7 linked regions of the Homo sapiens genome follow. The protein of the gene in region 1 interacts with the protein of each later gene in a pairwise test. Each region holds a gene or a part of one and is shown in the gene's direction. Other genes may lie near its edges.

Region 1 (4,469 bases):
CTGGTTTTGGGTACCAAGGAAGTTTTTCAAAACCTCACAGGGCTTTGTAGCTATAAAGATATGTAAGGATCCTTGGGTTATCTGAAGCCCAGAGAAGGGAGATAACTTGTCCAAGAGCACACAGCAAGTTGGGGGCAGCGCTGGGCCAGTGCTCTGAGCTCCTCCAACCCCGCCCCCACCCACCCAAGGCTAGATCTAGATCTACCCACTCCTCTCCTTAACTCTTCATCGGCTGTACTCCCACCCTAAGGAGTCGAAATCCCCACCCTAGGGAGAGACATATCCTGTCTGGATTGTCCAAAAGGGAATGAAAGGTAAAAATGAAAAAAAAAAAAAAAAGTGTCCCCAATTCAAGTGCAGTGCCTCCCTGGTGCGGGCATTCCAGCGTGGCCTGGAGTGAGTGGCAGTCCACCTCCAGAGGCGTCCCCTGGGCGCTCCTAGGGACTCGAATTTCCCACGCGGCTTTTTGCTTTATGTATTCACTGTTTAGACGTTTTCGGTCAAAGCATTTTGGGACTTCCGTAACTCTCAGAGCGCGCCAGGGAGCCGCCCTTAAAGATACCTAGTTACTGATGAGTTCCATCCGGTAAAGCAGAGGGTAGTGGGCGGCTTGGAGACTCAGGATCCGGGTCCCCTCACGCTCCTGGCTGAGTCCCTGGCTTCACAGGGGAAACTACCTCCGCAGGCCAGGACCCATCTAGTTACAGGATACCTCGATGTTACAAAGACGAGGCTTCCAGCGCGGGGGCGTGGAGGCGGCTGCCAGCCCTGCCCGCAGCGTGCTGGCGACCCCCGGGACGCCCCTTCCCTCCCGCGCCTCTGCTCCCTAGCTGGTGGGAGCAGAGCGGCACCGGGATCACTTCCAGGTCCCTTGCACCGGAGGAATGGGCGGCAGCAGGGTCCGGAGTCGGCCCGGCGGGGCCCACGTGGCCAGCACATCGGTCCTCCGCTCGCGATTTCCCTTTTCCGCTCTCGGGCACGAGGTACTGAACGCCAGGTGGAAGCACAGCTGTGCAGCTACAGGCTCTGCCGTTCAGCTGCCGCGGGCCGGGGCCGGGGCCTGCGGCGTCGTGCGCGTGCGCGGACCAGTTCCAGGCGGGCGAGACCGCCGCAGGGCGGGGCGGGGCGAGGCGGCCGCAGGGCGGGGAGGGCGGGGAGAGGCGGCCGCAGGGCGGGGAGGGCGGGGCGCGAAGCCGGGGGCGGGGGCCACGCGTGGGGCAGGCGGTGCTCGGCTCGGCTGACGTCGGCCCGCCGGCGCCCCACCAGCTCCGCGCGGGCCCGGGTTGGCCACCGCCGGGCCCCCGCCCCTCCCCCGGCGGTGTCCCGGCCGGAACCGATCGTGGCTGGTTTGAGCTGGTGCGTCTCCATGGCGACCCGCCGGTGCTATAAGTAGGGAGCGGCGTGCCGTGGGGCTTTGTCAGTCCCTCCTGTAGCCGCCGCCGCCGCCGCCCGCCGCCCCTCTGCCAGCAGCTCCGGCGCCACCTCGGGCCGGCGTCTCCGGCGGGCGGGAGCCAGGCGCTGACGGGCGCGGCGGGGGCGGCCGAGCGCTCCTGCGGCTGCGACTCAGGCTCCGGCGTCTGCGCTTCCCCATGGGGCTGGCCTGCGGCGCCTGGGCGCTCTGAGGTGAGGGACTCCCCGGCCGCGGAGGAAGGGAGGGAGCGAGGGCGGGAGCCGGGGCGGGCTGCGGGCCCCGGGCCCCGGGCACGTGTGCGGCGCGCCTCGCCGGCCTGCGGAGACACGTGGTCGCCGAGCGGGCCACGACCTTGAGGCGCCGCTTCCTCCCGGCCCGGGGTTCTCCCGCGGCTGGATAAGGGTGATCCGGGCGCCTCGTTCTGCCCCCGTCTTCACAGCTCGGGGCTGGAGGGGCCTAGGGGAGACCCACCCGGAGACCCTGCGGCCCCGCGCCGGCCTCTTTCCCAACCCTTCGGCGGCCGCGCGCTGGCCGGGGAGCCGTTGGGGAGGCCCTGGCGGCCGCGCAGCAGGTGCAGGGGCGCAGAGCCCGGGCTCGCCTTGGTACAGACGAGCGGGCCCCGGCCTTGGCGCCTTCAGTTTCCTTCCAGTTTTTATTTTCGCTGTGTCTACAGAGCAGATGACACCAATTTGGAAACCCGCGAGAGTGGGTAGAGCTAAGATAGTCTTGCTGTAGTAGCTGTGATATTAGATGCTCGGCCATGACTTAGAGGTGTTTATTTAAGGACTGTGAATGACTCGGTGATTTCGGAAAAGCTTGGCTTAGATGAACGGACATACACAGGGGAGACAGCCCTAAGGTTTGCAGAAAAGGCTGATTGTGCTGTTTGCGAAGTCGAAATAATTGGTGAAAGTGTAGAAGGCAGAACCTCTCAGGAATGTCTGGGGAGGACAAAGAATGTGTTGGCTGACTTTGTTTAAACATAAAATTGGGCAGACTTTAATTGATTTGTGAAATTTTTTTCAAAGTTTGTTTGAATTAGCCCCTATCTCTTCTAACATTATCCTCTTGTGCTAATTGATTGACCATTTTAAATAACTTAGCTGTTACAGAAAGACCGAAAGGTGTTCTTCAGTAAAATATATTCAAGTAAGTTACTTAAGTAACGCCTTAAAAGATACAGAAAAGCAAAAAAGTATTGGCGTATTAAAAAGAAATCAAAACTTTCCAAGTTTAGGCCTGAACATTGCCTTAAAAATATTTAATAAGGCCTCAAATGACCCAGTCCGAGACTGCATGAGCCTATTTATTATTAAATTGTAAATATTCTTCATATAAACAAAAATATATAACCATGTCTGTAACAAAAATGGTTTTGCTAGCGTTGTTACTCTCTTCCCTTCTCCGAGGGGTGATTTAGGCAACTTCGGAGGTTGACAATGCCAAGCAGTCACAATAGATAGAGCTTTAAAGCAAATTCTATGCATGGGTTTGGATTTATGACAGGCCCGTCACCCTGGGCCTGTCATAGTACCCCATGCCAGAGCAAACTGTGTCCCCGAACCATTGCCTGGCCTCTGTGCCCGTAGGCTGCTGGCACTGAAGTGGGTTGCACAGTGGAAAAGAAGAAAGCTCTACCTGGCAGAAATTTTTAAAGGTTAAAATAAATAATTTTAAGAAAGCTGGTTCACAAGGTGCCACATTTGATGAAAGCAAAATACAGTGGCTTTTATTGTTACTAGAGTGATGTTCTTGCTTGTTTTTCTTTTTTGGTGAAGTTAGCCCCAAATTATTCTCATAGCTAAGCAAATACGAGAGTGACTGTAAGGACAGTTGGCATTCCCGGAATTGCTAAACTTGGTAGGCAACGCTGGTTTAAGAATACTGAGTTCTAGCCGGGCGTGGTGGCTCACGCCTGTAATCCCAACACTTTGGGAGGCTGAGGCAGGCGGATCACCTGAGGTCGGGAGTTGGAGACCAGCCTGACTAACATGGAGAAACGCCATCTCCACTAAAAATATAAAATTAGCCAGGCCCCGGGTGTGGTGGCACATGCCGGTAATCCCAGCTACTCGGGAGACTGAGGCAGGAGAATCGCTTGAACCCAGGAGGCGGAGGTTGAGGTGAGCCGAGATCATGCCATTGCACTCCAGCCTGGGCAACAAGAGTAAAACTCTGTCTCAAAAAAAAAAAAAAAAAATACTGAATTCTGATCAGGTAACAGCAACTGTAATACAATGTGATAAGTTGACTTGAAGATTACAGTTTTTAAGAAGTATATACCCAGCTAATACATGAAAATTAACTCGTAAAATCTCAAATGCTCCAGACATTTCCATGATGCCTGTTGGTCAGTAAAAATCATTCTAAGACTTAGTGGAAGTAGGAAATGTTTGTATGGCTGTGTATAAAGGCTATAATGTAATCCCAGCACTTTGGAAGACCGAGGCGGGTGGATCACCTGGGGTCAGGAGTTTGAGACCCACCTGGACAACGTGGTGAAATCCTGTCTCTACTAAAAACACAAAAATTAGCCGGGCATGGTGGCAGGCGCCTGTAATCCCAGCTGCTGGGGAGGCTGAGGCAGGAGAATCGCTTGAACCCGGGAGGCAGAGGTTGCAGTGAGCCAAGATTGCACCGCTGCACTCCAGCCTGGGTGACAGCGTGAGACTCTGTCTCAAAAAAAATAAAAAAGTCTATAATGCTATTTTAAGTTTCTAAGGAACTGAAACTGCTCTGAAATAAATCAGACCATTATAAGACTTTTTTCCATATCAGTGAGCTAAGTGCAGATAAGCTTCTGAAACTTGCATGCTAGATTTTTTTGGTACAAATATTTGAAATGCTTAGTGTGCTGCCTTGGAAAAACCTGGTATTTTTTGTTGTGTCCTTATACTGCCAAGGTTTATGGAATCATGTACCTTATGCCTAGTAATAATTAGGATGACCAGGCCAGTGAGTGGTTCATATCCGGGGCATGATTAGCTCTGCGTGTGCTCAGCCAGTGCCCCATCTTCAACTCGATGTGTTCCTAAGGTAGACAGCAAATTCCCTATTT
Region 2 (3,940 bases), on another chromosome or scaffold:
TAATTGATACATTTAACATGTAATAGCCTTTTATGAGTTAATAAGAGAAAGACATCCCCTGTAGTAAAAACAGATGCATATGACATGAACAGGCAATTCATGAAAGAAGAAATGCAATGAGTACAAAAAAATAGTGATAGAGGATGAATAAAATATAGTACTTGATAGCCGAACAGGGTGACTATAATAATTCAATTGTATATTTAAAAATAACTAAAAGAGTATAACTGGATTGTTTGCAACACAAAGAATAAATGCTTGAGGTGATGGATACCTCATTTACCCTAATGTGATTATTACACATTGTATGCCTGTATCAAAATAACTCAAATATCCCATAAATATATACCTACTACTAATATATACCCACAAAAATTAAAAATTAAAAAAAGAAGAAATGCAGCTGGGCATGGTGCCTCACACTTGTAATCCTAGCACTTTGGGAGGCCGAGGCAGGTGGATCACCTGAGGTCGGGAGTTCGAGACCAGCCTGGCCAACATGGTGAAACCCCGTCTCTACTAAAAATACAAAAATTAGCTGGGCGTGGTGGCACGTGCCTGTAATCCCAGCTACTTGGGAGGCTGAGGCAGGAGAGTCACTTGAACCTAAGGGGCGGAGGTTGCAGTGAGCTGAGATCGCACCACTTCACTCCAGCCTGGGCAAAAGAGTGAGACTCCGTCTCAAAACAAAAAAAAAGAAAAAAAAAAAAGAAATGCAAATGGCTGATAAATCCACCCTGTTAGTAATTTAAGGAATGCAAAGTAAAGCAATAATGAGACATCATTTTTTTCACCAATGACATGTCTAAGAATGATAATACTAAGTATATTGCTTGGAATATGGATAAATGGACATTGTGTTATGTTTCTGGTAGGAACATAATAGGCATAACCTTTTGTGGGATATGGCTATATATATGTTTTAAAAACCTTGAAAAATCTGTCTACCTAATAATTCTATTTCTAGATATTTATTTTTTATTTTTATGTTACTTTTTTCAATTAATACACAATAATTTTACATATTTATAGGATACATGTGATGTTTTGATACATACATACAATGTGTAATGATCAAATCAGGGTATTTGGGATATATATCATGTCAAACATTTATTATTTCTTTGTGTTAGGAGCACTTCAGATCTTCTAGCTATTTTGAAATATGCAATAAATTATTGTTAACTATAGCTACCTCACTGTGTTATTAAACATGAATAATGTATTCCTTCTATCTAACTGTATGTTTGTACCCATTAATCAACTTCTCTTCACCCCTCCTGCCCCTTCCCATCACTCTACTCTCTACCTCCAGGAGATCAACTTTTTTCCCCCTTTTTATTTAGAAATGGAGGTCTCATTATATTGCCCAGGCTGGCTTCTAATTTCTGGGCTCAAGTGATCCTCCTACCTCGGCTTCCTGAGTAGCTGGGAGTACAGGCTAGATGTTCCATCCATGTTGTTGTAAATGACAGGATTTCATTCTTTTTTTTTTTTTTCTCCCTAGACGGAGTCTCGCTCTGTTGCCCAAGCTGGAGTGCAGTGGTGAGATCTGGGTTCACCGCAACCTCCGCCTCCTGGGTTCAAGCGATTCTCCTGCCTCAGCCTCCGGAGCAGCTGGGAATACAGGTGCATGCCACCACGCCTGGCTAATTTTTTGTATTTTTTAGTAGAGACGGGGTTTCACCATGTTAGCCAGGATGGTCTCGATCTCCTGACCTGATCGGCCCGCCTCCACCTCCCAAAGTGCTGGGATTATAGGCATGAGCCATCGCGCCTGACCCATTCTTTTTTTTAATGGCTGAACGGTATTTCATTGTGTATATACACCACATTTTCTTTATCCAGTCATCCATTGACAGACACTTAGGTTGATTCCATATCTTGGCTATTGTGAATGCTGCTGCAATAAACATGGGGCTGTAGGTATCTCTTTGATATACTGATTTTTTTTCCTTTGGATAAATACCCAGTAGTGGGATTGCTGGATCATATGGTAGTTTTATTTTTAATTTTTTGAGAAGCCTCTGTACAGTTTTTCTTTCTTTTTTTGAGACAGGATCTCACTGTGTTGCCTAGGCTGTAGTGTAGTAGTAAGAACACTGTTTCTTGCAGGCTCACACTTTAGGGCTCAAGGGATCTTCCCACCTTGGTGTCACTGGGACTACAGGCACCCACCACCACACCCAGCTAATTTTTAAATTTTTCAGAGAAGAAGGATCTTGCTATGTTGCCCAGGCTGCCCTCAAACTCTTGGCCTCAAGTGATCCTCCTGCTTCAGCCTTCCAAAGTGCTGGAATTACAGCTATGAGCCAGCGTACCCAGCCCATACTGTTTTTCATAATGGCTGTACTAATTTACATTCCCACCAACAGTGTATAAGAGTCCTCTTTCTCGCCAGGCGTCGTGGCTCACGCCTGTAATCCCGGCACTTTGGGAGGCCGAGGCAGGTGGATCACCTGAGGTCAGGAGTTCGAGACCAGCTTGGCCAACATGGCAAAATCCCGTCTCTACTAAAAACAAAAAATTAGCTGGGCGTGGTGGCATGTGCCTGTAATCCCAGCTACTCAGGAGGCTGAGGCAGGAGAACTGCTTGAACCCGGGAGGCAGAGGTTGCAGTAAGCTGAGCTCGTGCCACTGCACTCCAGCCTGGGTGACAAGAGCGAAAATCTATCTAAAAAGAAAAAAAAAAAAAGAGGCCTCTTTTGCTACATCCTCACCAGCATTTGTTATTTTTTATCCGTTTGGTGATAGCTATTGTAACTGGGGTGAGATGGTATCTCATTGTGGTTTTTATTTGCATTTCCCTGATGATTAATGATGTTGAGCATTAAAAAAAATACCTTTTGGTCATTTGTATGTCTTCTTTTGAGAAATGTCTATTCAGATTCTTTGCCCACTTTTTAATGGAACTATTTGTTTCTTTGCTGTTGAGTTGTTTGAGTTTCTCATACATTCTAGATATTAGTCCCTTGTTGGATGACTAGTTGGCAAATATTTTCTCCCTTTATACAGGTTGTGTCTTTGTTGATTGTTTTAAAGAAATAATTATAGGCAGCAGTATGGATTTATGTGTAAGCAGGGTAATTACACTGTAGTTTATAATAGTGGAAAATTAGAAACAACCTAAATAGCCAATAATAGCCAATTTGTAAAATTGTGAAGCATCTACGTAATTATAGAAAATTATTTACATGGAAACATTTTTATTATACTTCATCACACTATTCAAAATAAATGTTTTATTTTCTTTGTTCTTTCATCCACCCATTTATTCTATCCGTTAACAGTTTATTCTATTCATTGCTCCTTGCTATTCCACTCCTTTGGGTTTATTTTCTTTATTGTTGAAATATTCCTTTAAGTACTTTTAATGAGGGGCTTGGTAATAAACTCTCTTAGTCCTTGTATGTCTGAAAATGATTATTTTGCTTTCATTTTAAATGATAATTTACCTGGGAATATACCAACTCTCTCAGCACTTTGAAGGTATTTCTGTCTTTTAATATCTTGCTTTTAAAAGCAATATATTATTGCTTTGTCAGTCTTTTATGTCTCATTTTTTTAATGATTCTTGTTCTTTAATGTTTTGCAATTTCCCTTCCATGTATTTAGGCAAATTTGGTTTCTTTTTAATGTATGCTACTTGAGGCTGATGTGCTTTTTCAGTTTGAGGTCTTACATTTTAATTATCAGTATATTCTCTTTGAATAATTCCTTCTTACTGTTTTCTTTGTTCTTTCTTTCTGGGACTTCTACTTGTTATTAAGCTTCTGATTTTATCCTTTATGTCTTTTATCTTCTTTTTTATACTTTTCATCTTTTTATTCCTCTGTGTTCTGAGTGATTTCTTCCAATCAATAATTGTTTCTTATCTATATAATTTACTGTTTAACACATCTTTTGAGATTTTCATTTCTAGAAGTTTTACTTGTTTTAT
Region 3 (3,940 bases), on another chromosome or scaffold:
TTGGATAGGGTGGGAAAAGTGAAAAATAAGGATGAGCACTTCTGTGCCGTGCAGATTCACACTGGTATTTTATTTAATTTTCTTCCAAGAGTCTCGGGGCAAAGGATAGAACAATTAGGATGGAGGTCACGAGACATCTGCTATATAAAGGAGAAGACACATTTAAAGAGGGTGGGACTAGAGAAGCAAGCATTAGGCAAAGCTTCGTACCTCACTCTGCTCTGGCCGTTAAACAGGTCATGGGTGGGGACAAGAGGAAGACTCTACCTGAATGCCGCTCCTTAAAAAAAAAAATTGTGAAGTGCCCTTTTTGGGAGATCCCTGCTTGCAGCTGTTTCAGAGCAGAAATAAGGAAGATAGAAGGGACATTTCAGGGGCAGTGGTCTAAAATGGTTCTCCCAAGGGTGGAAGGAGTGGAAGGCTTTCGCAGAGGGCAACCTGTAGAACAAGCCTCTGATTAGACTCTAAGACAGGGCTGGACCTGTCCTTTCAAACCTGAATCACAGTGTTCTGTTAGGTTTTAGTAACAGGACACCCATTAGTAAAATGCATTTATCCGACATTTTTTCCCCATAAATTAATGGTTGCTGTCCACTCCTAATGTAGCTGAGAAAAGTAGACCACAGAGGGGAGGTGGCAGTGGAGCAGATGCTCTTTCCAAAATGAAGGGAAGGAGAATACCATGGAAACTCTATTCTTAAGGCAAAGGGTAAGGCCTTCTTACTGAAACTCTGGCAGGGGAATATAAAGTAGTCTGGCCAGGGAGGAGTCAGATATATTGAACAGTCTAATTTGAGTCGTTTACACTGGTCACACCCAGATGGATATTTTCCCTGGATGTGTGCTAACCACCTGACATTATATCTATATGTAATGCGTATGTAGCTGATAGCCAAGGCCCACTTAGGCATACGGATATACAAAGATGCAAAGCCCAGTTTCACTCAGAAGAGCTCTAGATGAACTGATGGGAGGGATTGGGTTTTGAAGGGAAGAAGAGCACATAGATGGGGAAGGTGGAGATCAGAAATGGATAGTCAGGGTGGATTGGCACTGAGGAGTAAGCAAGTGATGCTTTAGTATGTCCTCTTGCAAATTAAAACTTGGCCAGTCTCCACTGTTGCTTTTACTACTTGTGGAAATAACTGTATAGTAGTTCAGTGATCTTTGACTCATGAGTCATGAACCATTGTTAAACTATTTTCCGTGTCATCAGTTTACTATTCAGGACCCAAAATTCATACTTCAGCATTGACATCTGGCAACCGTGAAGTATAGGTCCCAAAGCTGTCCTCTTTCCTGCTCCCTGGCATTCATTCAGAGTGTGGACTTCAGAGGTAGTGGAGGTGTGCAGACTCTGCAGTTCTCTGTCTCTGCCATGAATTTCTATTGAGTATCTCCAGCTGTTCCATTGTCTTGGAATCCACACCAGCCCTGTGACTAAGTGGAGTCAGCTGTGGATTTCACACCACTGTTTTTTTCTTTTTTACTCTGCTTACCCTTTCTTTCCTGTCTTGTCTCCTGTTCTTAATTCTTCAGGGTTTGCTGGGTGTTTTTCCCAGTACCAGTAGACAGGGTGATATAATGGGAAAAGTGTGGCCTTTGGCATCAAACAGACCTGGATTGAAATCCTAGCTTATCTACATCCCGCGATATCTTAAGTATTTAACTTATCTGAACCTTGGTTTTCACATCTATAAGTTGAGGATAATAGCCTCCCAGCATTATTATAGATACTAGATTTTTAGAAAAGCCATTTCTCAGAATTTACATAAGAGAAATAAAAACATGTGCCTACCTAAATACTTGTACATGAATGATCAAGGCAACTTTATTTATAATATCTCAAAATTGGATGCAACCCAAATGTGTATCAACATTTGAATTGATAAACAAATTGTAGTATACCCATACAGTGGAATACTACTCATCAATAAAAAGGAATGAACTGAGTTAAATGCAGTAACATAGATGGAACACAAAGCACTAGGCAAAAATAATCCATAGTGACAGAAAGCAGATTGGTAGTTGCCAGGAGCCAGGGCAGTGTGTGTATGAACCAGAGAGGGCTGACCACAGAGAAGCATAGCTTAAAAGAACTTTTTTTTGGGGGGGGCGGGTGGGGGAGGGTGTGGTGGTTAAAGATATGCTGTACATGCAGTAAAAATCCCTCTTTATAGCCAATCACCTCCCCTTACCCCCAGCCCTTGGCAACCACTGATCTAATTTCTGTGTCTGTAGTTTCGCCTTTTCCAGAATGTTCACATAAATAGAATCATGTATGTAGCCTTTTGTGTCCAGCTTTTTCCTTTAGCATAATATAAGAGTCATGCATGTTTTATGTATCAACAGATTGTTCCTTTCTATTACTGAATAGTATTCCACTGTATGGCGCTACTAGTTTGGTTTATCTACTTACCTTTTGATAGACATTTTGATTGTTTCCAGTTTGGGGGGCAATTATAAATAATGCTGTTATATACACACACACGTTTCTGTGTGGACATATGTCATCATTTCTCTTGGGCAATAATGTAGGAGAGGACTGCTGGGTTATATAAGTGTATACTTTACTTTGTAAGAAATTGTCAAACTGGCCGGGGCAGTGGCTTATGTCTGTAATCCCAGCATTTTGGAAGGCCAGGGCGGGTGGATCACCTGAGGTCAGGAGTTCAAGGCCAGCCTGACCAATATGGTGAAACCCCATATCTACCAAAAATACAAAAAAATTAGCTGGGCGAGGTGGTGTGTGCCTGTAGTCCCAGCAACTCGGGAGGCTGAGACAGGAGAATTGCTTGAACCTGGGTGGCAGAGGTTGCAGTGAGCCGAGATCGGGCTACTGCACTCCAGCCTGGGCCACAGAGCTGGACTCTGTCTCAAAAAAAAAAAAAAAAAGAAATTGTCAAACTATTTTTCAAGGTACTATTTTGCATGCCCACCAGAAATGTATGAGAGTTCTAAATGCTCTGCTTTCTCATCAGCACTTCGTATTGTCAGTTTTTTAAAAAATTAAGCTGCTCTAATAGATGTGTAGTGATACTTCATTGTGAATTTAATTTGCATTTCCCTAATGACTAATGCTGTTGAGCATCTTTTCATGTGTTTTTTTGCCATCTTCATTTTTACTTTAGTGACATATGTATTCAGGTGTTTTGCACATTTTAAATTGGGATCTTTGTTTTATTATTGAGTTTTGAGTATTGTTTATATATGACTACCAACTTTACCACGTCTGTTATGAAAATATCTTCTCACAATCTGTGGCTTTTCATTTTTGAACAGCTTTTGGAAGAGCAGACATTTTAAATTTTGATGAGATCCAATTTGTCAATTTCTTCTTTTTTTCTTTTTGAGACAGGTTCTCACTCTGTCGCACCATGACGGCTCACTGCAGCCTCTCAGGTAGCTGGGACTACAGGCACGTGCGACTATGCCCAGCTTTTGTGTGTGTGTGTGTGTGTGTGTGTGTGTGTGTGTGTGTGTGTGTGAAGACGGAGTCTCACTATGTTGCCCAGGCGAGTCTCGAACTCCTGAGCTCAGGTGACCCATGTGCCTTGGTCTCCCAAAGTGCTGAAATTACAGACGTGAACCACCGTGCCCAGCCAATTTTTTCTTCTATGGTTCTCAAAAGTCTTTGCCTAACCCAAGGCCACAAAGATTTACTCCTGTGTATTTTTTAGAAGTTTTATACTATTAGCCTTTTCATTTAGGACCTAAATTATTTATTTTGAGTTAATTTTTTGTATATATAATATGAAGTTCATTATTTGCATATGAATGACCAGTTTTACTAGCACTGTTCATTGAACTTTCTTCATTGAATTTCCTTAGCATCTTTGTTAAAAATCAGTTTACTAGGCCGGAGGTGGCTCACACCTGTAATCCCAGCACTTTGGGAGGCTGAAGTGGGTGGATCACTTGAGGTCAGGAGTTTGAGACC
Region 4 (4,676 bases), on another chromosome or scaffold:
CAGACTGTATTTAAGAACACCTGTTTATCAAAATACGTTAATAAGGTGAAAAGGCAAAAGAGTGGAATATAACTGAGGATACACACACCATTGAATCTATTCAATACACAGGACTATCCAGAAGAAAAATGGACAATAAATCTGAACAATTCACAAAACAAATCCAACTGGCCAATAAATATGAAGTGATACTCAACACATTAGGATATAGGGAAATGCAAGTTTGAACCTCAATGAGATACCATTACTCACATATCAGAATTTCTAAAGTGTTTCAATTTTTGTAACTTCAAGTGTTGTTGAAGATGGGAAACTGCACTGTACAATGGTACTATAACTTTGGAAGAGTTCAGGCTTATCTCTGCCGAAGTTGAGGTTAGGCTTTCTCTATCACCCAGCACTTCCAACAGCAGGCTGTGCGCGTGGACAGGAGGATTCTGGCAAGGAATGTTCGCAGCAGCACTATTTGTAATAGCTAAAACCTGGAAACAACCTAAATGCCCATTAATAGTCAAATGGATTTTTTTTTAAACTGTGGCATATTCATACAGTGAAAAACTACAGCTGCATAAAACCACAGATTAACAACAGATTTGAACAAATGAAGACATACTACAGAGGGAAGAAAAAAAACAAGGACATGATCACCGTAAGGGTCAAGAAAGTGATCATCTTTAGAAGGGAGTTGGGACCCAGGAGGGACAGGTTGGCTTCTGGGCTGTAGGCAATGTTCTCTGAGTGACTGGTTGCACAGGTGTTCACGTTGTAAAAAGTCATGAAGCTGCACATTTATTTTGTTTACACATACAACATAACTTATGTTGTATGTTCTTATATGTTCGATTCACAACAAAAATGTTTTAAAATAATCTGAAATATTAGATCACTGCTTATTTTTAAATGTATGGCATATACCCCTTGAAAAGAGCGTTCTCATTGTGAGGACTTTAGAGAAATTCATTTTCTTGAGAAACAAAATTTGGTTAATGAGTGTTTCTCATTAATAATCTATACATCAGGATTAAGAGCTGATTTTATTAAGGTCTACCCTACCAAAAGCTTTCCCATAATAATCCAAAATAAGACGTTTTCCTATTTCTATATAAATTCCTTTGCATGAGACATTTGTTTATTAAAACACTTAAAATTGTATTTGGAATAAACCACCTAAAGTGGTTTGTTCTGAAAAAAAAAAAAAAAAAAAAAAGCCTTTTAAGAACTTGGGTCTTTTTGTTGTGGTCATTTAAAATCAGTATTTTAGACACTCCACTCGCTCTCAGTGTAGAGAGAATGTATTCGATTGCGTGTTGGAACTACGTGTAGACAAAACGATCGCGGTTAAAGCTTGCGGCTCAGAGCCCACCTGGCCGCGCTGCTGGGAAACGGACGGAGCGGCGCTTCAATCAGAGGTGAAGGTGCAGCAGCTGCTTAGCTGGCTTTGGTCCATCACTTCTGGGGACTTCAGATTCTCAAAATCTTAAATTCTAAACCCCACAGGAATGCAAATCTGCCCACCTTTTCCCACATAACTCTACCGTCGCTCAAACTCTTCCTGGTACCAGCGGGGAAGCGGAGGAGACCCAGGCAGGGGCCCGCGCTCGCTCGGCTGCAGCCCGACTCCCCTGCGCTCCCGGCCCAGGGCCGCGTCCCGACGGGGAAGTGCGCTGCGCCCGGGCGCCCCCGAGTGGAGGGGGGGGGAAGGAGGGAGCCGGCGGCGGGCGGGGCGGGGCGCGGTGACAGCCGAGCCGGGCCCGCCCCTGGCTCCCACCCCCGAGCCCACAGCTCCCGCCCGCCCGCGGCCGCCCGGGAGCTCGTCCAGCCCCGCGCTGCGCTCGCCCGCCCGCTGCCCGCCGGAGCACCGCGGCCTCCGCCCGCGTCCATCTGCCCGCCGCCCGCGCCTGTTCCGCAGCCCGCGTCCGCGCCGGCCCCACAGCTCTGCGTCCGGGTAAGCCCCCACCCCGCCTGGGGTCCCCCTCGCGCTCGCGGGGCTCCCTGCCCCCGCTCCGGGGCCTCAGCCATATCTGGGCAAAATATTCAGCTGTCGCCGCCGCCGCCAAGAGGGACTGAGCGTGGCTCCCTCTATAAATAGCTGCCGCCTCGGGTTGCCTCTGGGGCTAGGGAGCCCGGGTCTCGGGGTTCCGAGCCCAGCGCTCCCGTCCCCGCCTCCCCGCGCGCGCAGCCCTGGCCAGGGCGCCCTCCGCTCTGGACCTCCGCACCGCGTCTGTGAACGCGAGAAGGACCCGGGGTTCTGGAGGAGACGGCGCCCCGGGCTGGGGTCCTGGCGGAGGGGCGCCCCCGCCACCCGCAGGACTCCAGCGCGGCGGGGCTCTGAGCCCGCGGGGTGCTCAGCTGGGTACAGGTGCCAGCCGGAGCTGGGCTCGGGGGCGCGGCCTCTTCTCCGCCTGCAAGAGTCTGGGGGTGGGAGTGGGGGAGTAAAGGCTCGACTGGACGTGGATCCCAGGTTCGCGCTGAGAGTGTTTGGGGCAGGTGAAGTTTCCCAAACTGGGAGAGACAAGGTTTAAAGCACCACGACACGCGCTACGCGGCCAAGTGGAGCTGGAAAGAGCTTGGAGGCGGGAGCCCCAGGTTGTCGCCGGCTCTCGGCATGGCCTTGGCAATCCCCCTCTTGTTTCTGGATCTCAGTCTCCCATTTGTAGGGGCGAGGTTTGGTAGCCGCGATGGAGCTGGGAGCCCAAGCCCTGAGAGCTGCAGGGCGCGCTCTTGGCCGCCTGCGCTCCCCACACCTGTTCACCCTCTCCGGGCCTGGGACGCTGGGGTCCCAGCCGCGCACATGCGGAGACGCTGCAGAAATCGGAGACTGACTGCCCCAGACTCGATCGTATCCTGGGACTCACTAAGGCCGTCGGATATCCTAAGCCGTACAACCCTAGGAAGTGCACTTTTGGGGTGCCTATGGGCATCTCTCTGCTCCGTAGCCGGCAAAGCAGCCTGTGAGCCACGCAGCTTCAGATGCGATGAGCTGGGCAGGGGCAGTGGTTCCAGTACAGCCGCTCCCTGGCCACAGTTTCCCGGTCTATATCGGGCCTATGATGCGTCCTCCAACCTGCGCAGCGCCGCCCCCTCCTACACCCTTCACCCACCGCTACTATTACAGACCCTGTCTCCAGCCCTCGCCCTATGCCCTCAGACTCTCGGAGACGACCTGGCCCAAGCTCCTCCGTGTCTGAATCGCAGAACCAGACCCTGAACCCAGGTGCTGGGCCCTCAGCGTGAGAACCCCTAGGGCCCCCACCCCATCTTTCTTCCAGAGGTGACTGCCATTTTGTCCTCTGTGCAGGGCCGCAGAGCCCCCTGCTCAAGGTCACACAGGGCCGGTCACGCCAGAAGTTCTGCAGTCTCCCAGCCTTTCCCATCTCTTTCCGCACCCTTCCCACTGCTCAGGCAGGTCCGGGAGCTCTGGGAGCACCCGATCAATGCCCCCTCTTCTTGAATCTGCTGCTGTTCTGGACTTTACCTTGTCTGGACAATAGCGCCCTCATCCTGAAGTTTCCTTTTTGCTTCTACTTTACTTTCTGTTATGTGTTTTTTTCTAAAGCCATCTCAAAGACTTACAGAAAAAAGAATTAACGGGAAATGGAGTCAGATAATAAAGTTTCCATCAGTTAGAGCCACACAACCAACAGGCAGAGTGAAAACAAGAATACTGTCACTTTGGTGTATTATCTTTAATGAGCTAGTCTTACAAACCCGTGTTTTAGAGAGTCATTGACCCTTGAGTTTCTCCCAGCCTAAGATGAAAGCCAGTGTCCTCTAAAAATAGCCTCCGCCCCACCTTATCAGGGTCTCACACCTTCTCCCTCCTTCAGGGTAGGGCGTTTTCTTGCAGCTCAGCAAAAACAGAAAACACAAAGTAGGTGTGGCAGCTCTGAGCAATGGGAGGTGGACTGGCCTGGAGGTTAGGATATCTGGCTCCAGCCCCAACTCTGCCACCCACTCAGAGGAACCTTGAGCAATGAGGGGGCAGACAAGGTGGTCTCTAGTGGACCTGGAGTGGAGAGGGCTTAGAGTCTTCCTTGGAAGCCTTTCTAGCATGACCCATCCTGTAAGGAGGAGCTGGGGAAGGAGTGAGAGACAGTGGCTTTCCCAGGTGCCAAGGGAGGACAGAGGTGGGCAGTGTCACTTGCTGTGGAGAGACAGGAGTAGGGGGATGAGGACTGGGAAAAGACCATCAGGATTGGCAGGGATCATGAGTGACTTAGACCAGGGTATTGCAGCAGGCTCAAAAAATGAGATCTGCCAGTGACCCAGCCTGTCTGAGCCTCGTTTTCTCCTCATACAATGGAGACAACAATAGCCCCATTTCATAGGGGCTGCTTGTGAGAATTAAGTGAGATGATTCAGGGCAAGCCCTCAGCCCAGAGCCTGATATTGCAATGATAGTATTCGTTGTGGTGAGGGGGAAAGGCAGGAGCTAACAGGAGCTGAAGAAGTTCTCCACTTCTTCAGGCTGTAGGCTGAAGAAGGCTCTCAACAGAGCCAGCAACTCTTTCTAAAAGCTTGGATGAGAAAGGAAGGGAGAGGGAAGGTAGCAGGAACTGAGGACAAGGAACAGAAGGGAGGCAGGCATTCTAGGATAAAGAGTATGGCAAGTAGTGAGAAGAACCCAGGAGAGGGGAGAGAGTTAAAGGGGAATCTAAAAGGTGTGCCCATAATGA
Region 5 (3,940 bases), on another chromosome or scaffold:
CTATAATGGAAAAATAGGCAACAGATTTGAACAGGCAAGCCAGAAATAAACAAATAGATTAAGCAGGAAAAAGTATTCAGCATTACTACTAATCAAAAATATTAAAAAAAAAAATAGGGTAGCATTTCTTTTGCCTTTTATTTGGACCAACATTAAAAATATTGATGATAAAAAATACTGATAGAACTCAGTGAGGCTATGGATAAAATGGCACCCACATGCTTTTCTGGTTAGAGTATAAATTGGTACATTTTTCCTGGAAGTCACTATTACAGATTAAAATTTCATGTTCTTTGACCCCTCAATTTTTATTTTAGATATTCTAAGTAGGTGGTTAAAGATATAGAAAGATAGATGCATGGAATGCTCATTCAACATGGCTTTTAATTGCAAATATTAGAAACAATCTAAATGTTCATCAGTTGGTAACTGGTTAAGAGAATTTTCTGTTTGATTGTTTTACAATAAGCATAAGTAATTTTTATAAAAACAGTAATATTATTTTCCAAGAAGGAAGATATTTTGGTACGTTTCTTCCTGGTCTTTTTCAATGTACTTTTTAATGTGGTTAAGATTACATTGCATAAGCAATTTTATCCAATTTTTTTCACTTAATATTATATCATAAAATATTTTTCCATATAACTTAAAACTGGCTGCTTAATATTCCATGGTAAGCATACTTCATAATTTACTTTCCATATTCCTTTCGAAAATAACTAATAGTGTTATTTGTGATATTTTAGGCCAAACTGTATTATGTATTTTCCAGTGTGACTTAGTCTTATATCCTGAGAATAAAATTATGATGCTGAGAGTTATTTAACCTCCTCAATATAAAGCCTAGTTTTAATTTCTCTAATAGTCTCTTCTAAAGCTTACTAATAAGAGAAGTGTTACTTCTCAGAGAATTGTATAACATAATGGAACATAAAACTAGAAGCCCCTGTGGAAAGATAATCTAAAGAATCTTAGTGAGACTTCTATTAGCCATAAACCTAAGGTTATTTAACAGTGTTAGCATTTGAAATCTAATTGCAGGCCTTTGCCCTTTTTGTCAAAACCAAAGAAGTTCCAACAAAAAGGAGTTTTGAATGTAAAGAAAAATTGTGGAAATGCTGTCGGCAGCTATTCACAGACCAAACCAGCATCCATAGACATGTGGCAACACAACATGCTGATGAAATTTATCACCAGACAGCTTCTATTTTAAAGCAACTGGCTGTGACATTGAGCACCTCAAAGAGTCTTTCGTCTGCAGATGAAAAGAACCCTTTAAAAGAGTGCCTTCCACATAGCCATGACGTGTCTGCTTGGCTCCCTGATATAAGCTGCTTTAACCCTGATGAGCTGATAAGGTAAGATTTTCATTCTGTATTTTGGTTTGATTTAAAGTATTTTTCCAACCACAATGAGATACTACAATTCACCCATTAAAATGGCTAAAGTGAGAAAGACCAACTGTGTCAAATGTGAAATGAGGATGTGGAACAACTGGAACACCCAGTCACTGTTGGTGGGAATGTAATATGGCACAACCACTTTGGAAAAGTGTTCGGCAATTTCTTAAACATGCATCGTTCCTGTGGCCCACTCCTGGGTATAATACCAACAGCAATAAAAACATATCCACAGAAAGCCTTGTACAAGAATGCTCATAGCAGTTTTATTCATAATAACAAAAAACTGGAAACAACTGCAAATATCCATCAACAGGAGAATGAATAAACTGGTATAGTCATGTAAGAATATTGCACGACAATAAAGTGCTATGAACTGCTAATATTCAAGAACGTATATGGGTGAATGAGAAAATCCTTATGCTGAGTGAAAATAGCCAGACAATACATATTTTCTGATTTCATGTACTTGAAGGCAAAACTAATATATGATGATAGAAAGGTTCTGGCAGAAAGTTTGGGAATACACAAGAGATTTTTTGAGGTATTGGAAATGTTCTGGTTTTGATAGTGGTGTGGATTACACAGGTATACTTGTGTCAAAAATGATCAAACTTTACACTTAAGATCTGTGTATTTCACTTGTAAACTGTGCCATGCTTTAAACATTTTTAAATAAATAGGGCAGGAAAAACTAAGCAAAAAAAAGGGGGGGTTTCTTTTAAGCTAGATATCATTATCTGTATGATTTCAAATATACGTATCCAGAAAAATGCATCATTTACTAGGTTTATTGGGGAATGTAGCATTGCACATAGGGAATTTTTAAGAAAGCAGGTAAATGTAGCTTACATTTTAAAGCATCTAAACTTTCTTTGATTTAACCTTTTTTTTTTTCTGGAGTCTTTCAAACTGCATTAGACTCTTCTTTAATTGCATAATTAAACAGAGTATAGTGAATGTGATTGAACTTTTTGTGAGTGCTTTAATGCCATCAGGATGAACTTAAGTAGGATGCCAAGGTATAAAAGTTTGTCTTTTTACTAAGACGGCTCAGACTTACTCTTCTGTTACCTCTCCTCCCTCTCTTCTAATTCTAGATCCAAACTCTCTGTATTATTGCTATGTACCAAATTCAGCTTACAGCAGCATAGTTGGTGTTACTAGCTCAGAGTCTCTCATGAACTTGCAGTCATCTCATTGCTTGACTGGGGCCAGTAAATCTGTTTCCAGGTTCACTCATGTGGTTGGTGGCAGGCTTGTTTTTTCAGTGGCTTTTAGTCAAAGGCCTCCATTCCTCTCTGTGGGGGTCTCTTCATAGGCTGCCTGAGTGCTCTCATGACATGGCATGTGATATGTGAGAGACAGAGACACTTCAAGACAGAAACCACAATCTTTTATGACCTAATCTCAGATTGCCATACCATCACTTTTTATTGATGCTATTGGTCACGTAGACTAACCTCAGTACAGTCTAGGAGAGAACTATGCAAGGGTCTAAATACCAGGAGGCAGGATCATCAGGGATCATCTTGGAGGCTGGGCACCATACCTCAGAGTTGTTACTTTTTAGTGTGTATTACCTAGCAGCACTGCCTGCACTTTACCTATTCTTTCAGGATCTTAACTACTTGCAACAGCTAGATCCTTAAGGCACAGAATTCTAGAGGCCTAAGTTAGGCCAATAACATGCATACTATATATAGCCAAAGACCATAGCCTGTGCAGCAGCATATACCCAGTCAGTTGACATTGTTTGTGAGGTTTTTTCTTTTTTTTTTTGAGACAGAGTCTCACTCTGTCACCCAGGCTAGAGTGCAGTGGTGTGATCTTGGCTCACTTCAACCTCTGCTTCCCAGGTTCAAGTGATTCTCCTGCCTCAGCCTCCCGAGTAGCTGGGATTACAGGCATGCACCACCATACCCAGCTAATTTGTATTTTTAGTAGAGACAGGGTTTCACCATGTTGGCCAGACTAGTCTTGAGCTCCTGACCTCAGGTGATCTGCTCACCTTGGCCTCCCAAGTGCTGGGATTACAGGTGTGAGCCACTGCATCCAGCCTGTTTGCAAGGTTTCTTGGAGACCATTCTACATATTCTTTAGGGAGGAGAGGTAAAGAAAGAAAATTATATTATTTTCAAAAACAAGTGGGAAGACACAGAGACATTAATGATTCCTCTACCCTATGTAATGTCAGAGCTTAAAAAAGGGTTTTGTATTAGTCTGTTTTCATGCTGATAAAGACATATCCAAGACTGGGCAATTTACAAAAGAAAGAGGTTTAATGGACTTAACAGTTCCGCATGGCAGGGGAGACCTGATGATCATGGTGGAAGGCAAGGAGGAGCAAGTCACATCTTACGTAGATGGCAGCAGGCAAAGAGAGAGAGCTTGTGCAGGGAAACTCCTGTTTTTAAAACCATCAGATCTTGTGAGACTTACTATCACAAGAACAACATGGGAAAGACTCATCCCCGTGATTCAATTACCTCCCACTGGGGTCCTCCCATGACACGTGGGAATTGTGAGAATTACAATTC
Region 6 (3,940 bases), on another chromosome or scaffold:
AAACAGACAGAGATGACTTTGAATGAGAAGTTTAGGATCCTGAAGGAACAAAGAGCCACTCTGACAAACAACAAAGGAGGAAGCTGCTTTGTAACTGTATTAGTCTGTTCACACACTGCTAATAAAGACATACCTGAGAGTAGGTAATTTATAAAGGAAAGAGGTTTAATGGACTCAAAGTTTCACATGGCTGGAGAGGCCTCACAATCATAGCAGAAGACAAAGGAGAAGCAAAGTCATGTCTTACATGGTGTCAGGCAAAAGAGCTTGTGCAGGGAACTCCCATGTATAAAACCATCAGTTCTTGTGAGACTTATTCACTACCATGAGAACAGTATGGGGGGGAACAACTCCCGTGATTCATTTATTTCCACCTGGCCCTGCCCTTAACATGTGGGGATTATTACAATTCAAGGTTAAGATTTGGTTGGGAACACAGCCAAACCATATCAGTAATCATGGGATAGATCCCATATCAAAGGGAATTTTGAGTGATGACGCTGAAAAATTGAATTGCTTGAAGAGTTCATCACAGAAATTCAAGAAACTATGCTTCAAAACATTCACAAGGCTAACTCATTTTTATTTCTGAAGGTTTTTTTTTTTAAATAAAGCAGGTATGATATAATGCCCTGAGACAATAACAGGGAATATACCTGTTCTTAAAGATTTCATTGTTGGCTCAGACAGAACAATTATCTATTTGACTTCTTTGGTTCCTCTTATAGCAGAAGGAAGATAGAAATATAGAAACTGATTATTTTTATGATAGTGGTATTTAGGATCTCATTGCCTTTGCCCATTTTTTTAGATTTTATCATGACAAATCTTGGCCTTCTGAAATATGGGTAGGTCCCTTTGTTGCTATCAGTTATCCTTTAATAGTGTTGATGCAGTAAATACAGTTGCCTTGTCTTCATGAGAGATATTTTTAAAAATATTGGAATTCTAGTTTGGAGTTTCAAGATTTATGAAAATATCTGAAACTTGGTTCACTTTTCAGGTACATTTTAGGCTAATACCCCAGAATTATGAATTTTTAGTGCTGAACTTAGAAATGTGGCTCTAGGCATTAGTCTCAGCTTAAAATGTTGGTGCTTAAAGACTGAAGATGCATATTTACAAAGTTAATCTGATAGGGCCTTGGAGGAGAGGGTCCAGTTTAAGAATCTGACAGTTTGTATTTAGTGAATGAAAGCATGAGAGCAAGTAGCAAGTTGAAAGACAGGTAACTGAGATGAGAAACTTCAAAACTTAGGTCATGTGTACTGTTTGGATTTAGTGTAGTCTTGAGTCTAGTGTCCACAAATAATTCTTCAAATGATATTTAGAAGAATTATAATTATTTAAATGGAGTCCTTCAGACATTTTGATAGTAAAATTAATAGGCGTAAAGTCCTAAACTTTATTTGAAAAGTTACTTCTCATTTGAAAAGTTAAAATTTATGAGCTTTGAAGCTTGCTAAATTAATTTATAGCTCCAAAACCAAAAATATACTTGTATATGTCACAAATAACAGAAGCAAAATATATAATAGAATTACATTGTACCTTGTTGTTTACCTTTCACTGATTTCTTGTATGGTATAAAGCTCAGTATTGATGGGGAGAAAAGGGCTTCGCCCCTACCCCCGAGACCTTTGATGGGTGGGAGGAGTTAGTCTGTTTGCCAAGATAGTGCTGAGTCCTCAGATGTTGAACACTATAAATTATAGTATAATGACAAATTCAGCAAAATGTTCCAGCTATAAGTTACAGGTTTAGTCATTTTGAAGCTTGACGTTTTAGTTTGCTATAATGTTAAAAACATCCAAGTAGGTGATAGTTTCTCTGGAGTATATTATTAGTGTTGACTTTTCCTATAAAACAAAACATCGTTATCGTTCAGCCTGCCTTGCATTTTATACTAGACTTCATTCTTGTCTCTCATGCTTCTTGGGTTACTTAATGGTTTATGCTAGCCCTGAAAGCTATCAGTAAAAATTTCATGCTTATATCAAAGAATTAAATCTGATCCTTTAATATCTGATATTTTGCCAGTACTTCTAGTGATAAGGGATTTTTGGAAGTCAGTCACAGAATTTAAAAATAAATTCTAGTCTTTCCTCAGCTATTTGATACTCATCCCTGTTCCTGCAAAAGACATGATCACATTATTTTTTATGGCTATGGGGACAAATAGGCCAAGTACTCATTGCCAAGCATTTTTGTAAGTATGCATGCTTATATTTGGTCCAGAAACAATGCATTCTAGATTGGTTTAGAATTACTGGTAGCTTATTTTACAGCAAGGAAAAGCAGCTGAGCAAGAATTTGCTGTCTTTAGAACAGTTTGTGAAATATGATATAAGGGTGTTTTCATTTCCTATTCCCTATTCTCTCTCTACTCTGCTCCTCTGACCCCATTCATTGAAAGGCAGCTGCCTTATTTTACATGAAGGTGTGCAATGCCTCAGATTTCTTTCAGCTTGCACCCCTGATCTCGGTCTGAGCACATGGTGAAGCTCTACGGAAAGTTGGCAGATAGAGAAAGACTTACTCTGTGGCTACAGTTTCTTGGAATTCTAGTTTATCAAACCAATCCACACATATCCATTAAAAGTACATTAAATTTTCTGTTGATTTCTCCTTATTTTTTTCTGTTGGGTTTATTTTTTGCTGCTTTATCATAATTGTAAATCAGCATGTAGGAGAGAAAACTTTCTGTTTCCTATGGAGCAGCTTGTCACTTGCTGGAGTTCAATTCATGTAGATTCTTTGCATTCTCAGTAATCTAATGAGTTACAAACAAAACAAAAATAAAGACCAAAAAAAAAAAAAAAACCAACAACCCCAAAACTAATTTTGTAGTTTATGCAGATAGTTGTGTTTGTTAGAGAGAGAACAGTGGTAACTCTTGTGGCTTTCTTCACACTAATCAAAAGGAGATGGGCATTTCTTAATTTTTAAAAGGTTACAAAAAGCTCAGCAAGACTTTTATGTACCTGAATGGCCTGTCAGCTTCTAGTTTTGCTTTCCTTTGGGTAAATCCTAAGTACAAAGCTATGGATGTTTTTTCTCTAAAGAGCAATACACACACCACCCCTTTTGTTCTTTCCAAAGATTTTATTCTCATTCTTTTGAGAAGATCCTTCTGGGTTTTTTTTTTTTTTAACTTTCATTTTAGGATCGGGGGTATATGTGCAGGATTGTTACATAGGTATATTGTGTGATGATGCTGAGGTGAACCTGTCACCCTGATATTAAGTACCCAATAGGTAGTTTTTCAGCCCTTGCCCCCATCCCTCTCTCTGTCCTCTTGCAGTCCCCAGTGTCTTCTGTTCCCAATGTCCGTGTGTACCCAATGTTTAGCTCCCACTTATAATTGAGAACATGAGGTATTTGGTTATCTGTTTCTTCATTAGTTCACTTAGGGAAATGGCCTTTAGCTGCATCCATGTTGCTGCAAAGGACATGGTTTCATTTTTTCATGGCTGTATAGTATTCCTATTCCATGATCCCTCTATTTTTTTATGTTCTGTTGCAGGTAAACTCTTGGATGCAAGGCATTCTGTTTCCAGGACTTGAGGAAGGGATTAGCGTGAAGTCAAATGTCTCATATATATATAAACGTTCAATAAATAACCATATTTTCAAACCCACATCTTATTTTTATCCTCCATTGTACCTGATTTCTTTTAAAGGTTCTGTATAACAGATTGTGTTATCTTCCTAGATGTATTGATACCATTCATGCATATTTTGGCTGCTGCTTCTTTAACAGTGGTTCATTATTGTTATAAAATTTGTCAGCTTGCTTACTGTCTTCTGGAAATTCATTGAAAGCTCTCAGGTGTCTTGTACTAGAAGACTATATCAGGAAGTTTCTAAAGAACTAGAGGGTTAGAACTGACTCCTAAGTGGTCTGACTGCTGATTCAATTCACCTTTCATCAACCCTT
Region 7 (3,940 bases), on another chromosome or scaffold:
GCCATCTGTATTTGGTTGTATTTGCAGTGCCTAACAATTTGTCACTGGCTGCAATTACCATGCATATCCTTTCATCTTCTAGATCTTTAATTTATTAATTAGGAATAGGTATAATATGGCCACTCATGCCTATCTACCTGACTTCTTAACTTCAAGAAGTGCTTTTGCAGCTTTTGACCCCTTACAGTATACCTCATTTGATATATACTGTAGCAACTTAGAATTCTTTACACAAAATAATGTATTTGATAATCAAGCCATATACAGCATCCACCTGCAGGCTGCACAGACGAGGAGCTGTGCCAGGTCTAGAAACTCGATTTGTATGAGTTTACTCAGGGGTAGGGAAGTAACACACAAAGACTAAATGCAAAGAGACTAGTGTATAAACCAGAATGCCACTCTATTAATTTGTAATGAGAATTATTTATTTTCCATAACAAAACTTTAAGAATATGCTATAACACACGCACGCACGCATACGCGCATGCACTACCCTCACCAAGAAGGCTCCTGGTAAGCATGGTATCAATGCCACGAAGTCCTGGAGAAACATTCCCTCTCCTAAGAATTGAGAACATCTAGAGCTGCTCCTTCATTTTACAAACAAGGAGATTGAGGCCCAGAGAGATTAAGTGACTAGTTCATGATACTTGTGCAATGAGGCAGTGGGGGACCTGGCACTGTTATTACAAGCATTTATTTGAATTCTGTAGTACCACTGCTGACACTAATTCTGTTCTTTCTGCAGAGAACAGAAAAAACGCAAGCAGCAGAGAACAGGAAAAGGAAATCGAAGAGGCAGAAAGAGACAACAAAACACAGAATTGAAGGTGGAGCCTCAGCCACAGATAGAAAAGGAAATAGTGGAGAAAGCACTGGCACCTATAGAGAAAAAAACTGAGCCACCTGGGAGCATAACCAAAGTATTTCCTTCAGTAGCCTCCCCGCAAAAAGTTGTGCCTGAGGAACACTTTTCTGAAATATGTCAAGAAAGTAACATATATCAGGAGAATTTTTCTGAGTACCAAGAAATAGCAGTACAAAACCATTCTTCTGAAACATGCCAACATGTGTCTGAACCTGAAGACCTCTCTCCTAAAATGTACCAAGAAATATCTGTACTTCAAGACAATTCTTCCAAAATATGCCAAGACATGAAGGAACCTGAAGACAACTCTCCTAACACATGCCAAGTAATATCTGTAATTCAAGACCATCCTTTCAAAATGTACCAAGATATGGCTAAACGAGAAGATCTGGCTCCTAAAATGTGCCAAGAAGCTGCTGTACCCAAAATCCTTCCTTGTCCAACATCTGAAGACACAGCTGATCTGGCAGGATGCTCTCTTCAAGCATATCCAAAACCAGATGTGCCTAAAGGCTATATTCTTGACACAGACCAAAATCCAGCAGAACCAGAGGAATACAATGAAACAGATCAAGGAATAGCTGAGACAGAAGGCCTTTTTCCTAAAATACAAGAAATAGCTGAGCCTAAAGACCTTTCTACAAAAACACACCAAGAATCAGCTGAACCTAAATACCTTCCTCATAAAACATGTAACGAAATTATTGTGCCTAAAGCCCCCTCTCATAAAACAATCCAAGAAACACCTCATTCTGAAGACTATTCAATTGAAATAAACCAAGAAACTCCTGGGTCTGAAAAATATTCACCTGAAACGTATCAAGAAATACCTGGGCTTGAAGAATATTCACCTGAAATATACCAAGAAACATCCCAGCTTGAAGAATATTCACCTGAAATATACCAAGAAACACCGGGGCCTGAAGACCTCTCTACTGAGACATATAAAAATAAGGATGTGCCTAAAGAATGCTTTCCAGAACCACACCAAGAAACAGGTGGGCCCCAAGGCCAGGATCCTAAAGCACACCAGGAAGATGCTAAAGATGCTTATACTTTTCCTCAAGGTAAGGGCTGTTTATAGCACCAAGGTAGGTACATCTCCCCCAGAGTAGTGATTTACAACTTTCTCTGACAATCCTGGGTATTCCCTGTTATTTCAATGGATACTGTGAATTTCATTGACTAGTTTTAAGTGAACAATATTTTCATGCAACCAACGTCTGTCTTGGCATATTTCAAAGAGTTAAAAAAATTGAAAATGCAAGCATGTACATTAAGTACTTATTCATACTATCCATCCATTATGAGATGCTATAGTCAGTGAAATGAACCCAATATAGGATGAATTATTGCAAAATATTTTTAAAAATTAAGTCTACATTAACAAGAAAGCTTGATGAATGAAGTTTTTCTAGGAAATTTAATTTGCCTGATAAATGGAAAGCAGGTAAATTCATAGTACGAAGTACTGAGGGAGATAAAAGCTGTAAAATATAATCCTGTTACTAGGGAATTCATTCTTGTAGGATTTATCAGGTTTACCAAAAACCCTTTCTATTTCAAGATTTGTTCCTGAAAAACTTTTTCCTAAGTATAGGAATTTGAAAATAATGCAACCTTTCTTTAATTTCACTTGCCTCAGAGACATAACTGAGAACTTCAGCTCTCTTTGTACAATACTGTAGACAGTATAAGAAATGGACTGAGTCTATCAGACCATAGTTATCCCCAGGAAACTGATTTCTAAAGAAATCCCTTTAGTAGTTTACTTGCTCTTTATCCTAAAAGATGAGTGCAACAAAAACATGGTGCTAGTTGGTTTCCAAGTAATACCAGTTTTGAAGAACTACTTTAAAGAAATACATTGCAGCAAAAGCAGGCATGTGAAGCAGTACGTGCACTGACAGGAGTACCCTGCTGGAGAAGCAGCTCTAACCAACACAGCGTCCTGATTCCTAACTGCTTCATTCTAAACCCAGCAAGGTCGATATGGTCAATTAATTAACGCTTATTTTATTTTTGGCTTTGTTTGACCAAATAAATGGGAATATCTATTTTTCCTGATTATAAAAGTAGTAAGTGTTCATTATAATAAAGCAATATGTAAGTGAATATCAAGTAAAGTAAAAGTCCCCTATAATACCATCTTCTATCTTCAGTTCCCAATGTTAAGGTTGTTTTGTTTCAACAAATGAGACAGTACCCATCCTATCCTGTAACTTGTTTTTGTTTTCATTTACAATATGTATTGCAGCCATCTTTATGATGTCTTTTGTAACAACTGCATAGTACTGTGCTATATGTATATTCAACCAGTCTCTATAAGGATGAACACTTAGGTTACTGCCAAGTTTTACTATTACAACAATGTTCAATGAACATCATTGGGAATAACATTTATTTAGTTAACATTTATCTGGTACTTTTCTATGTGCCAGACACCATATTAAATATTTTATGTGGTTTATTTTATTCAATGTTAAAAGCTCTACTGGATAAATAATACTCCCATTCTAAATATAAGGAAATGGAGGCACTGGAGGCTGAAGTTTGTCTGATTATTTCCTTTGAATCAACCCCTAGAAATCAAATTGTTGGGCCAAACGGTACCCAAATTTAAAGTTTGAATATACAGTCAGTCAGACTAGCCTCCAGAAATGTGGTAGCAATTCACACGAGACAGGTGCCTTTTCCCCACACCCTTGTCAGCACTGTACATTATGACATTTTAAAAATCCTTGTCTGTCTGCTAGGTTAAAAAATACACTTGATCGGCCGGGCGCGGTGGCTCACGCCTGTAATCCCAGCACGTTGGGAGGCCGAGGTGGGCGGATCACGAGGTCAGGAGATCGAGACCATTCTGGCTAACACGATGAAACCCCGTCTCTACTAAAATTACAAAAAATTAGCCGGGCGCGGTGGCGGGCGCCTGTAGTCCCAGCTACTCGGGAGGCTGAAGCAGGAGAATGGCGTGAACCCGGGAGGCGGAGCTTGCAGTGAGCAGAGATCGCGCCACTGCACTCCAGCCTGGGCGACAGAGCGAGACTCCGGCTCAAAAAAAAAAAA

The links.
Region 2: the proteins of ODC1 (region 1) and STX17 interact in a two-hybrid assay, tested with the Homo sapiens proteins (one large-scale study listed by BioGRID and IntAct).
Region 3: the proteins of ODC1 (region 1) and TDRD7 interact in a two-hybrid assay, tested with the Homo sapiens proteins (one large-scale study listed by BioGRID and IntAct).
Region 4: the proteins of ODC1 (region 1) and TMOD1 interact in a two-hybrid assay, tested with the Homo sapiens proteins (one large-scale study listed by BioGRID and IntAct).
Region 5: the proteins of ODC1 (region 1) and TSTD2 interact in a two-hybrid assay, tested with the Homo sapiens proteins (one large-scale study listed by BioGRID and IntAct).
Region 6: the proteins of ODC1 (region 1) and BAAT interact in a two-hybrid assay, tested with the Homo sapiens proteins (one large-scale study listed by BioGRID and IntAct).
Region 7: the proteins of ODC1 (region 1) and HEMGN interact in a two-hybrid assay, tested with the Homo sapiens proteins (one large-scale study listed by BioGRID and IntAct).

What each region holds. Positions count from the first base shown.
Region 1 is NC_000002.12:10,445,275-10,449,743, reverse strand, and holds the start of ODC1 (ornithine decarboxylase), read left to right. Parts: upstream 1-1,416; 5' UTR 1,417-1,623; intron 1,624-1,731; exon of another isoform or gene 1,732-2,270; intron 2,271-2,894; exon of another isoform or gene 2,895-3,030; intron 3,031-4,469. UniProt on the Homo sapiens protein: Catalyzes the first and rate-limiting step of polyamine biosynthesis that converts ornithine into putrescine, which is the precursor for the polyamines, spermidine and spermine.
Region 2 is NC_000009.12:99,909,550-99,913,489, forward strand, and holds part of STX17 (syntaxin-17), read left to right. Parts: intron 1-2,606; exon of another isoform or gene 2,607-3,940. UniProt on the Homo sapiens protein: SNAREs, soluble N-ethylmaleimide-sensitive factor-attachment protein receptors, are essential proteins for fusion of cellular membranes.
Region 3 is NC_000009.12:97,418,257-97,422,196, forward strand, and holds part of TDRD7 (tudor domain-containing protein 7), read left to right. Parts: intron 1-3,940. UniProt on the Homo sapiens protein: Component of specific cytoplasmic RNA granules involved in post-transcriptional regulation of specific genes: probably acts by binding to specific mRNAs and regulating their translation.
Region 4 is NC_000009.12:97,499,859-97,504,534, forward strand, and holds the start of TMOD1 (tropomodulin-1), read left to right. Parts: upstream 1-1,807; 5' UTR 1,808-1,945; intron 1,946-4,676. UniProt on the Homo sapiens protein: Blocks the elongation and depolymerization of the actin filaments at the pointed end. The Tmod/TM complex contributes to the formation of the short actin protofilament, which in turn defines the geometry of the membrane skeleton.
Region 5 is NC_000009.12:97,623,099-97,627,038, reverse strand, and holds part of TSTD2 (thiosulfate sulfurtransferase/rhodanese-like domain-containing protein 2), read left to right. Parts: intron 1-1,041; coding exon 1,042-1,358; intron 1,359-3,940.
Region 6 is NC_000009.12:101,371,507-101,375,446, reverse strand, and holds part of BAAT (bile acid-CoA:amino acid N-acyltransferase), read left to right. Parts: intron 1-3,940. UniProt on the Homo sapiens protein: Catalyzes the amidation of bile acids (BAs) with the amino acids taurine and glycine. More than 95% of the BAs are N-acyl amidates with glycine and taurine.
Region 7 is NC_000009.12:97,928,033-97,931,972, reverse strand, and holds part of HEMGN (hemogen), read left to right. Parts: intron 1-751; coding exon 752-1,938; intron 1,939-3,940. UniProt on the Homo sapiens protein: Regulates the proliferation and differentiation of hematopoietic cells. Overexpression block the TPA-induced megakaryocytic differentiation in the K562 cell model. May also prevent cell apoptosis through the activation of the nuclear factor-kappa B (NF-kB).